Linked DNA regions of Homo sapiens. The protein of the gene in region 3 purifies or fractionates together with the protein of the main gene of each other region. This does not show direct contact. Each region holds a gene or a part of one and is shown on either strand. Other genes may lie near its edges.

Evidence for each region.
Region 1: the proteins of ASB16 (region 3) and SVIL purify together in Homo sapiens (affinity purification with mass spectrometry, with the first as the bait; one large-scale study listed by BioGRID). This does not show direct contact.
Region 2: the proteins of ASB16 (region 3) and AHCY purify together in Homo sapiens (affinity purification with mass spectrometry, with the first as the bait; one large-scale study listed by BioGRID). This does not show direct contact.

The regions. Positions count from the first base shown.
Region 1 is NC_000010.11:29,456,836-29,460,489, reverse strand, and holds the end of SVIL (supervillin), read left to right. Parts: intron 1-1,900; coding exon 1,901-2,056; exon of another isoform or gene 2,057-2,156; coding exon 2,157-2,243; 3' UTR 2,244-3,152; downstream 3,153-3,654.
Region 2 is NC_000020.11:34,286,302-34,289,955, forward strand, and holds part of AHCY (adenosylhomocysteinase), read right to left. Parts: intron 1-3,654. UniProt on the Homo sapiens protein: Catalyzes the hydrolysis of S-adenosyl-L-homocysteine to form adenosine and homocysteine. Binds copper ions.
Region 3 is NC_000017.11:44,173,566-44,176,659, reverse strand, and holds part of ASB16 (ankyrin repeat and SOCS box protein 16), read right to left. Parts: intron 688-3,094; exon of another isoform or gene 1-687. UniProt on the Homo sapiens protein: May be a substrate-recognition component of a SCF-like ECS (Elongin-Cullin-SOCS-box protein) E3 ubiquitin-protein ligase complex which mediates the ubiquitination and subsequent proteasomal degradation of target proteins.

The DNA.
Region 1 (3,654 bases), on a different chromosome or scaffold from region 3:
TGGCACAGTTGAGCCACTTTCAGAAGGATATAACTCACCATCCTCCCTGTGTATTCACTATAGATCTTGGGGGTTAGCAGCGGGGCCATTTACTGTTGTGCAGGCCTGTGGGATTCCAGCCGGAGAAGAGTCAGGCTTCCCACACCAGCAAGTTATACAAATAATTAACATTCAGCAAGTGCCCACTCTGCACTAGGCACATCTCCAAGCACTTTACACTGATTTTCTCATTTATCACAACAGTCCATCAAGATATCTTATTATTATTCCCATTTTACTGGTGTGGGAGCAGAGACACAAAAACACGAAGTCACTTGGCCAAAGTGACTTTCAGTGAGTGGAGGAGTCAGTACTCAGACGCAGGCAAGATCATCCAAAATTCGCCTCTTCTTTTTTTAGAGAAAGGATCTTGCTTTGTCACCCAGGCTGCAGTGTGGTGACTCAATCATGGCTCACACAAACCTTGAACCCCTGGGCTCAAACGACCCTACCACCTCAGCCACCCCAAGTAGGTAGGACTACAGGTGCACACTTCCATGCCTAGCCTATTTTTGTATTCTTTATAGAGACAGGGTCTCATCATATTGCCCAAGCTGGTCTCCAACTCCTGGATTCAAGGACTCTTCCCACCTCAGCCTCCTACAGTGTTGAGATTACAGGCACAAGTCACTGCACCCAGCCCAAAACCTGCCTCTTGACCACCAGTCTGTTCCATGTATTTCTAATATGAGCAACAGCTCTTAGTCATGCATTCCCACCATCCACCCACCCAAAAGGAGAGCAGCCAATCTGGGGTCCCAAGTTTAATGGAGGAAGAGAATTTACCCAGAATAGTTTGTTCATATTCACACAGTGGTTTTAAAAACAAAAAAATTGATTCTGCTCCAGAATATTCTAGGTGCATTTTCTGACCTTCTTTTTCTATTGCAGATTAAGAAATGGGGCCAGGGGAGGGAAGGGGGGTGTGATTTCTTTTCAGGTTATTTTTTAATATTTATTTTTAAACAAATTCCATTATTTGGAGGCTTCTGGTGTTTAGACTTCAAATCTACTAATCTTAGTCCATAATTCACTCATGGGACAGTCCCTAAACATTTTTCCAGAGACAGTTCTGAGACAGGGTTTGTTTAAAACTCTGTGACAAGGTGAGAAAAGATCTATAAGTCAGAGAAACAAGACTCCATCATCTCTACAAAAAAATTTTTTAAATTATTAGGTGCGCGTGGTGGCACATGCCAATAGTGCCAGCTACTCAGGAGGCTTGAGGTGGGAGGACTGCTTGAGTCCAGGAGTTTAAGGCTGCAGAGAGCTATGATTGAGCCACTGCCCTCCAGCCTGGGTTACAGTGAGACACTGTCTCTAAAAAATAACAAAATTTGGGGTCAAGTGTGGTGGTTCACACCTGTAATCCCAGCAGGAGGATCGCTTGAGGCCAGAAGTTTGAGACCAGCCTAAGCAGTATAGCAAGACCCAGTCTCTACAAAAAAAAAAAAAAAAATGGAAAAGGAAAAATAAATTAGCCAGGCCTGGTGATGCATACTCATAGTCCCAGTTACTCAGGAGGCTGAGGCAGGAGGATCACTTGAGCCCAGGAGCTGGAGGCTGCAGTGAGCTATGATTGCACCACTGCACTCCAGCCTGAGTAGCAGAGTGAGACCTTGTCTCAAAAAATACCATTTTTTAATTTAAAATTTAAAAATTTTAAAAATTAAAAGTCCAGACAACTGCAGGGCTTTGGGCGATCCCTTTTCTTTCAGAGCCATTTCCTCCTCAGTGATATGGAACTATGCATCCTCAGGCAGTATGCAGGTGGCACAGGGCTGTGTGTCTGTAAGCACTTAATAAAACAAGTTCAAATGTAGGACACGAGCTCTCCTCTCTGCCCCCTCCTCTTCTCTAGGACACGGAAGTTTCCAATCAGATCACCCTCGTGGAAGACGTCTTAGCCAAGCTCTGTAAAACCATTTACCCGCTGGCCGACCTCCTGGCCAGGCCACTCCCGGAGGGGGTCGATCCTCTGAAGCTTGAGATCTATCTCACCGACGAAGACTTCGAGGTAAGCGGTTCTTCCGGTGGGGTGGGGATGGGAGTAAAACAACACACGCACGCCCGGCTCCTTTCACTGAGCCGCGGGGCGCTTCTCCCAATGTTTCCAGTTTGCACTAGACATGACGAGGGATGAATACAACGCCCTGCCCGCCTGGAAGCAGGTGAACCTGAAGAAAGCAAAAGGCCTGTTCTGAGTGGGGAGACGCCAGAGGAGCCTCACGGTCACGTCCAACAACACCACTGCACCAGGGAAATGGATATATATTTTTGGACTGGTGTTTTTCACAAAGTATTTTTCAATCAGAGTTTTCAGAACCTGACATTGTTAAAGATACTGCTTGTCCCGGAGTTGTGTATTTTGTAAATGTTCAAGGGAACTGTTTGGAAACTTCTTTCCACCATTCAGGAGGTTATCAGAATTAATAAAAGTATCTGTTATGTGCACTTAAGCCGCAGCTGCTATAGATAGCACTGCCTTCTTGTTCCAGCTAGGCAATGCCTTTTTTTTTTTTTTTTGAAGCAGTTCTCTTTATAAAGTGTTATTTTGATAGTTTGTGGATTCTAAAATATATATATATTTATATAAACACCATATAAGTCAAATATGTATTTAACAAAGCAATATGTATTCATTCACTTTCAAGATTTGTTTTGGTGTCAAAATAACATGAAAAGGTAGATGGAGTTGCTTCTGTTGAATTAGCTCTGCCACCAATATGTATCTTCATACACGTTTGGAAATGTTTCCTGCAGCATTAGGTATGACTTGTTCTGAGTACTGCTTCCGGTGCTAAAATGAACAAAGAATTTGTACTTAATGGCATGGACTCTGGAGAATCTATGCGAATCAACCTTTCTACCTTAATATCTCCCCAAAAATGTATAGTGCCTTGTTTTTATGTACAGTTTATATACAGAAAAGTTTGCTCTGCATTTTTGATGATGGTTTGGAACATTATCTACAATTTTACTCTCAAATAGTCAAAATAAAAACATCTCAATTTCTAATACCGGTTGTAAACAGTACACATGTCATTTTGTGATATAGGACTCCCAAATAAAAGTATCAGAATAAACACAACAATTAACTGGTTCACATTGAATTCCAAGCATGTTCCTTTCTGGAATTTTTTTTTTTTTTGGTAAATATTAACATAGCACCAAATTTTGTAATTAAGTATAAATGACTATACATTTGAATTTAGTTTAGGGCAAGATTTTATACAAGGTCATAAGATTAAATACAGAGTTATTTGCCCCATAAAATTAGTACTCAGTACTATAATGAAGACATACTTTTGCAAATCATCATTCAGCAGAAGTTCTTTATCCCACAGCTATATCTATCTACAATTTCAATTTTAGGATCTCAATGCCCTTTAAAAAATTGTATGGGCCAGGCGAGGTGGCCCACACCTGTAATCCCGGCACTCTGGGAGGCTGAGGCAGGCGGATCACCTGAGACCAGGAGTTCAACAGCAGCCTGGCCAACATGTTGAAACCCAGTCTCTACTAAAAATACAAAAATTAGGCATGGTGGCACATGCCTGTAATCCCAGCTACTCAAGAGGCTGAAGAAGGAGAATCATTTGAAACTGGGAGGCG
Region 2 (3,654 bases), on a different chromosome or scaffold from region 3:
AACAACCCTGTGATTTCAGTACTGCTGTCATCCCCATTTCAGATTCAGAAACTGAAGTTTACAAGGGTTAGGTCACTTGTCCAGAGCCACACACTAAGAGGAGGCTGCAATTTGAGTCTGGACGGTCTGAGGACAGATCCCATGTTCTCAATAACCATGAAATAGTTTTGAATGCAGCTTAGCAAAAGCTGAATGCCGTGGCGCTCACATTGGAATCACCTCAGAAGCTTTAAAAAATGAGGATACCCAGGCCAGACGCGGTGGCTCATGCCTGTAATCCCAGCACTTTGGGAGGCCAAGGCGGGGGGAATCACCTGAGGTCGGGAGTTCGGGACCAGCCTGAACAACATGGAGAAACCCTGTCTCTACTAAAAACACAAAATTAGCCAGGCATGGTAGCACATGCCTGTAATCCCAGCTACTCAGGAAGGCTGAGCCAGGCGAATCGCTTGAACCTGGGAAGCGGAGGTTGTGGTGAGCCAAGATCGCGCCATTGCACTCCAGCCTGGGCAACAAGAGCGAAACTCCGTCTCAAAAAAAAAAAAAAAAAAAAAAAAAGATACCTTGGCCTCATTCCCAGAGACTCCTATTCCTGTGGCCCACAGTGTGGCTCCCAGGTGACTGCCAAGGTTGAGAACTCCCGGTTTAGTGAGTGAACGTGACATGGAAATCCCCAGCCTCAGTGCCCCAGTCCTCCGTCTGTCCCAGCTGTCTGAACACACAAACTTGCTTTCTCCCCACTCCCAGCTCTTCCCTTGCCATCCCTCCACCCTCAGGCAGCCTCCCAAACATTTCCCCAAAAGCCCAGGTTTCCAAGCTGCTCCAGAGGCCTAGTACCGATCCAAGGAAAGGTCTCTGATGCCCATCAGGCATTGATTGATGCTTCAATCAATAAGCACTCACTGATACCCATCTAAGCCCCTTGCAGGGACACGTCAACCTGGACTCTACCCTCCTGGTACAACAGTGGGGTCAGAGACCAAAGCCAGTGATGGATGCTGCACTAGGGGTCTGTACTAAGAGTGTGGGCATTGCCTCTGCCAGAGGAGCTGGCCAGGAAGGGGGTCTCTTTTTTATTTTATTAATTTTTTTTTTTTTTTTTTTTCTGAGACGGAGTCTTACTCTGTCATCCAGGCTGGAGTACAGTGGTGTGATCTCAGCTCACTGCAACCTCCACCTCCTGGGTTCAAGCGATTCTCCTGCCTCAGCCTCCAGAGTAGCTGGGACTATACGCATGAGCCACCATGCCCAGCTAATTTTTTGTATTTTTAGTAGAGACAGGGTTTGACCATGTTGGCCAGGCTGGTCTCAAACTCCTGACCTCAAGTGATCCGCCTGCCTCGGCCTCCCAAAGTGCTGGAATTACAGGTGTGTGCCACCGTGCCTGGCCAGAAGGGGGTCTCTTGAGCTGGGCTGAGAAGATGAACAAGGAGAAGGGCATGTGTTCTGTTCCAGACAAATGCAGCTGTCTGGACAGATGAGCAGAAGTAGGAGCTGCAGTGGGTATTCAGGGAGTGGTCAATTATGGCCTGAGTACAGAGGCCCTTGAGAGGACGGACAAGAGATAATGTTGGGCAGAAGGTTGGCAAGACTGTCAAGGATGTTGAGGGTGGGCATAGAGTCCAGCTTTGGAGGGCAGCTTGGCAGAAAGGTGCCCATCACCCCAATGTAGCAGGTTTCACCTGTGATGCCTTTGCAAAAAGGAGGTCTAGACAGATGGCTGTCAGGGGTGTGGCTGCCACAGAAGCACGCCCTGGCCACCCCCACACTGTGATGAGTGCCAGGCCTTCTAGGCAGAGATGGAGGTGCCCTCTGCCTAGCCGGGAACTGACACCCTAGACTAGTGCAGGACCTAGCCAAGGAGAACTCCCACGCAGGAGCAGAGCACCCAAGAGGAGCAGTGTAGGGGATGTGGGTTCATAGAGCTGCCTGTCTGCCTCTCTGGGACTTGGGCTTCTGGTGTGGCTGTGACTGGGTGGGTGTCAGGGCTTTGGCCAACTCTGTGTCTGTATCTTCCTTATCATATCTCAAACACGGCACAGCACCAACTCAAAGAACCTCACATAGGTGGGCTTTTCTCCCTTTAAAAAATGTGGTGGACCTGGTGTGGCAGCTCACGCCTATAATCCCAGCACTTTGGGAGATAACTTAAGCTCAGGAGTTTGAGACCAGCCTGGGGAACACAGCAAGGCCTCGTCTCTACAAAAAATAAAAAGTTAGCCAGGTGTAGTAGTGCACATCTGTAGTCCCAGGTACTTGGAAGGCTGAGGCAGGAGGATCAGCTCCTTCAGCCCAGGAGGTCAAGGCTGCAGTGTGCCATGATCATGCCACTGCCCTCTAGCTTGGGTAACAGAGTGAGCCCATCTCAAAAAAAGAAAAAAAAAATGATGAACATCTCTACATACATATTTAATTATCCTAAGGACCAATTATAGGAGAGATTGCCCAGTCAAAGAGGTTGCTTAACTTTAAAGCTCTTGATATCCAAAGCCAAAATGTCTTCCAGAAACATACTACTTTTATAATCAGAGAAAAAAATAAACTCATAATAATTGCAACTCAAGTAAAACTTCACACCCCCTATAAGAACTCATCTTCCAGTTTCAGTGCCCCAATGCCCAATGCAAACCTGTTCTTTCCCAGCTCAGTGCATGGGCCTGCTCCTCACACAGTGATTCAAGCTGTGTCCCTTTTTGTTTTTTGTTTTTAGTTTTGTTTTTGAGATGGAGTCTCGCTCTGTTGCCCAGGCTGGAGTGCAATGGCGCAATCTCGGCTCACTGCAACCTCTGCCTACCACGTTTAAGCGATTCTCATGCCTCAGCCTCCCGAGTAGCTGGGATTACAGGCACCCACCACCATGCCCAGCTGATTTTTTTGTTTGTTTGTTTTTGAGACAGAGTCTCGCACTGTCACCCAGGCTGGAGTGCAGTGGAACAATCTCGGCTCACTACAACCTCCATCTCCCGGGTTCATGTGATTCTCCTGCCTCAGCCTCCCAAGTAGCTGGGATTGCAGGTGCACATCACCACACCCGGCTAACTTCTTGTATTTTTAGTAGAGACGGGGTTTCACTATGTTGGCCAGACTGGTCTCAAACTCCTGACCTCGTGATCTGCCCACCTAGGCCTCCCAAAGTGCTGGGATTACAGGCATGAGCCACTGTACCTGGCCTTTTTTTTTTTTTTTTTTTTGAGATGGAGTCTCACTCTTATTAACCAGGCAGGAGTGCGAGGGTGCGATCTCGGCTCACTGCAACCTCCGCCTCCCAGCTTCAAGCAATTCTCTCCTGCCTCAGCCTCCCAAATAGCTGGGATTACAGGTGCCCGCCACCACACCCGGCTAATTTTTCTATTTTTAGTAGAGATGGGGTTTCATCATATTGGTCAGGCTGGTCTCGAACCCCTGACCTCATGTGATCCGCCCGCCTCGACCTCCCAAAGTGCTGGGATTACAGGCATGAGCTACCGCACCCGGCCCAGCTAATTTTTTTGTATTTTTAGTAGAGACGGGGTTTCAACCATGTTGGCCAGGCTAGTCTCGAACTCCTGGCCTCAGGTGATCCGCCCATCTCGGCCTTCCAAAGTGCTGGGATTACAGGTGTGAGCCACCATGCCCGGCCAAAGCTGTGTCCTTTGTTACTCTGCCTCCATCCTG
Region 3 (3,094 bases):
CTTTCCACCCCTCTCAGCTTGAGGTCCTACCTGGTGTCCTCCATGAGAATCATACAAGCCCCGCTACAGACAACAGAATTGGAAGGTCCTGAGAGCTACCAGAAGCATCTTCAGTTTTCATATGAAAAACTTAAGCCCAGGAGTGATTTGTGCAGCCAAGGACACACAGCAAGTTAGTGGCTGCACCAGAAATAGTACTCACTGCCTCAGACAGTCCCTCCCACAGTCTACTCTGTCTCCACCCCAAGGTCTGGTTCTGAATCATTCAGTTGTCAGTTGTCTCCTTTTTTTTTTTTTTTTTTGGAGACAGGGTCTCTCTCTGTGGCCCAGGCTGAAGTGCAGTGGTGTGATTACAGCTCATGTAGCCTGGACCTCCCAAGCTCAAGCAATCCTCCTGCCTCTGCCTCCCAAGTAGCTGGGACCACAGGTGGGCAGCACCACACCTGGCTAATTTTTTAAATTTTTTTTTATAGAGACAGGGTCTTACCATTTGCCCCAGCTGGTCTCAAACCCCTGGGCTCAAGCAAGCCTCCTGCCTTGGCCTCCCAAAGTGCTGGGATTACAGGTGTGAGCCACCACACCCGGCCTTATCTCCTAACATTTTGATAGCACAAAATTTTGAAAACCCACTTCTGTGTACGTTATGAAGCATAGAAAATTAAACAGTATGCACCAAAAAAAAATAAATACAAGTTATAATATTTTCTTTCTGTCCCCACACTTAAAAGACCACTCTTCTAAACCAGGCCACAATCATTCAAGCAAAGGCAGGCACTTGGGGCCATCCTCCTCCACTTTCCCCTAGGGAAAACAAACAAAACCAAAGGAAAAACAAAAACAAAAACAGGTTTTAAAGAGTGCATGTTTCCCAGTTCCAGGGAAAATTATAGGCCAGAACACTGTTGTGGCAAACATGCATCCTTACATACTGCAGGGTAAACCAAACATGCAACAAACTAAATTAATAATGATGAAACCAAACTAACAGTAACTTATAATTAAAAAGCCAGAACGGCAGCTGCTGGAAACAGGAGCAGATCCACCATCCTCGATGAAACTCTGATAATCAAATACCCTTTCCCAAAATGGCCAAAATCCTTGCTCACATATTCCAGGTAGGTTCTTTGCTCTGTAGCCAAGATGTGAGTAGCAGCCAGTCTTCCATAAGCTACTGAATTATCTCCTTGGTAAATTCTAATTGTGGGGCTAATTTTTGTTTCCAAATACTAATTTTTTTTTTTTTTTTTTTTTTTTTTTTTAGATGGAGTCTCATTCTGTTGCCCAGGCTGGAGTGCAGTGGTGCGATCTCTGCTCACTGCAAGTTCCGCCTCCCGGGTTCCTGCCATTCTCCTGCCTCAGCCTCCCAAGTAGCTGGGACTACAGGCACCCATCACCATGCCCGGCTAATTTTTTTGTATTTTTTTAGTAGAGATGGGGTTTCACCGTGTTAGCCAGGATGGTCTCGATCTCCTGACCTCGTGATCCACCCACCTCGGCCTCCCAAAGTGCTGGGATTACAGGTGTGAGCCACCATGCCCAATCTTTTTTTTTTTTTTTTGAGGCAGAGTCTTGCTCTGTCGCCCAGGCTGGAGTGCAGTAGCTCCATCTTGGCTCACTGCAGTCTCTGCCTCCTGGGTTGAAGCAATTCTTCTGCCTCAGCCTCCTGAGTAGCTGGGACTGCAGGCATGCGCTGCCATGCCTGGCTAATTTTTGTATTTTTAGTAGAGACAGGGTTTCACCATGTTGGCCAGGATGGTCTTGATCTCCTGACCTCGTGATCTGCCTGCCTCAGCCTCCCAAAGTGCTGGGATTACAGGTGTTAGTCACCACGCCCGGCTTCCAAATACTAAATTTAACTAACACTCCAAAGCTCGCTCAGTAGGGTTCCAGTAAGTGGGGATTCTCATCTTACTTAGAAAGATGAAGTCTGTTGGAAGGCACACCACATGCCTGTAAGAACCCAAGAAAGGGCTGGCAAATGTGGACCACTTCTTGGACTTCATCTAGATCTAGTGGGGAGAGGTCCCCAGCTTGTGGGCAGTGGAGAGTCTTCCAGAAGCCCTTGAATCCTTACCTGCCACCCTGTCTGTTGACCTGATTGTGAAAGTGCAAATACCCTCATGCAGGGACTCCAAGAAACTGCCAACCTTAAAAAAAGTGGGAGGGTTGGTGTATTGGTTCATGCCTATAATCCCAACACTTTGGGAGGCTGGGGCAGGAGGATTGCCTGAGCTCAGGAGTCGGAGACCAGCCTGGGCCACATAGAGAGTCTATGTCTCTACTAAAAATAATACTTTTTAAAAAATAGCCAGTTGGGCCGGGCGCGGTGGCTCACGCCTGTAATCCCAGCACTTTGGGAGGCCGAGGCGGGTGGATCACGAGGTCAGGAGATCAAGACCATCCTGGCTAACACAGTGAAACCCCATCTCTACTAAAAATACAGAAAAAAAAAATTAGCCGGGCGTGTTGGCGGGAGCCTGTAGTCCCAGTTACTCGGGAGGCTCAGGCAGGAGAATGGCGGGAACCCGGGAGGCGGAGCTTGCAGTGAGCCGAGATCGGGCCACTACACTCCAGCCTGGGAGACAGAGCAAGACTCCGTCTCAAAAAAAAAAAAAAAAAAAATAGCCAGGTGTGGTAGCACTGGCCTGTGATTCCGGCTACCCTGGAAGCTGAGGCAGGAGGATCACTTGAGCCCAGGAGATCGAGGCTGCAAGTGAGTCATGATTGTGCCACTGCACTCCAGCCTGGGCAACAGAGTGAGACCCTGTCTCCAAAAAAAAAATCTAGCCCTGTGTTTCCTAACATCGGTGTGAGGCACCCCCATACCTCTCTTCCCACTTTTTTTTAAGACAGGGTCCCGCCCTGTTGTCCAGGTTGGAGTACAGTGGCAGCATGATCATAGCTCACTGAAGCCTAGACCTCTTGGGCTCAAATGCTTTTCCTGAGTAGCTGGGACTACAATGCACACCACCATGCCCGGCTAATTTTATTTTTTGTAGAGACAGGGTCTCACTATGTTTCCCAGTCTGGTCTTGAACTTCTGAGCTCAAAAGATCATCCTGCCTCAGCCTCCCGAGTAGCTAGGACTAGAGGC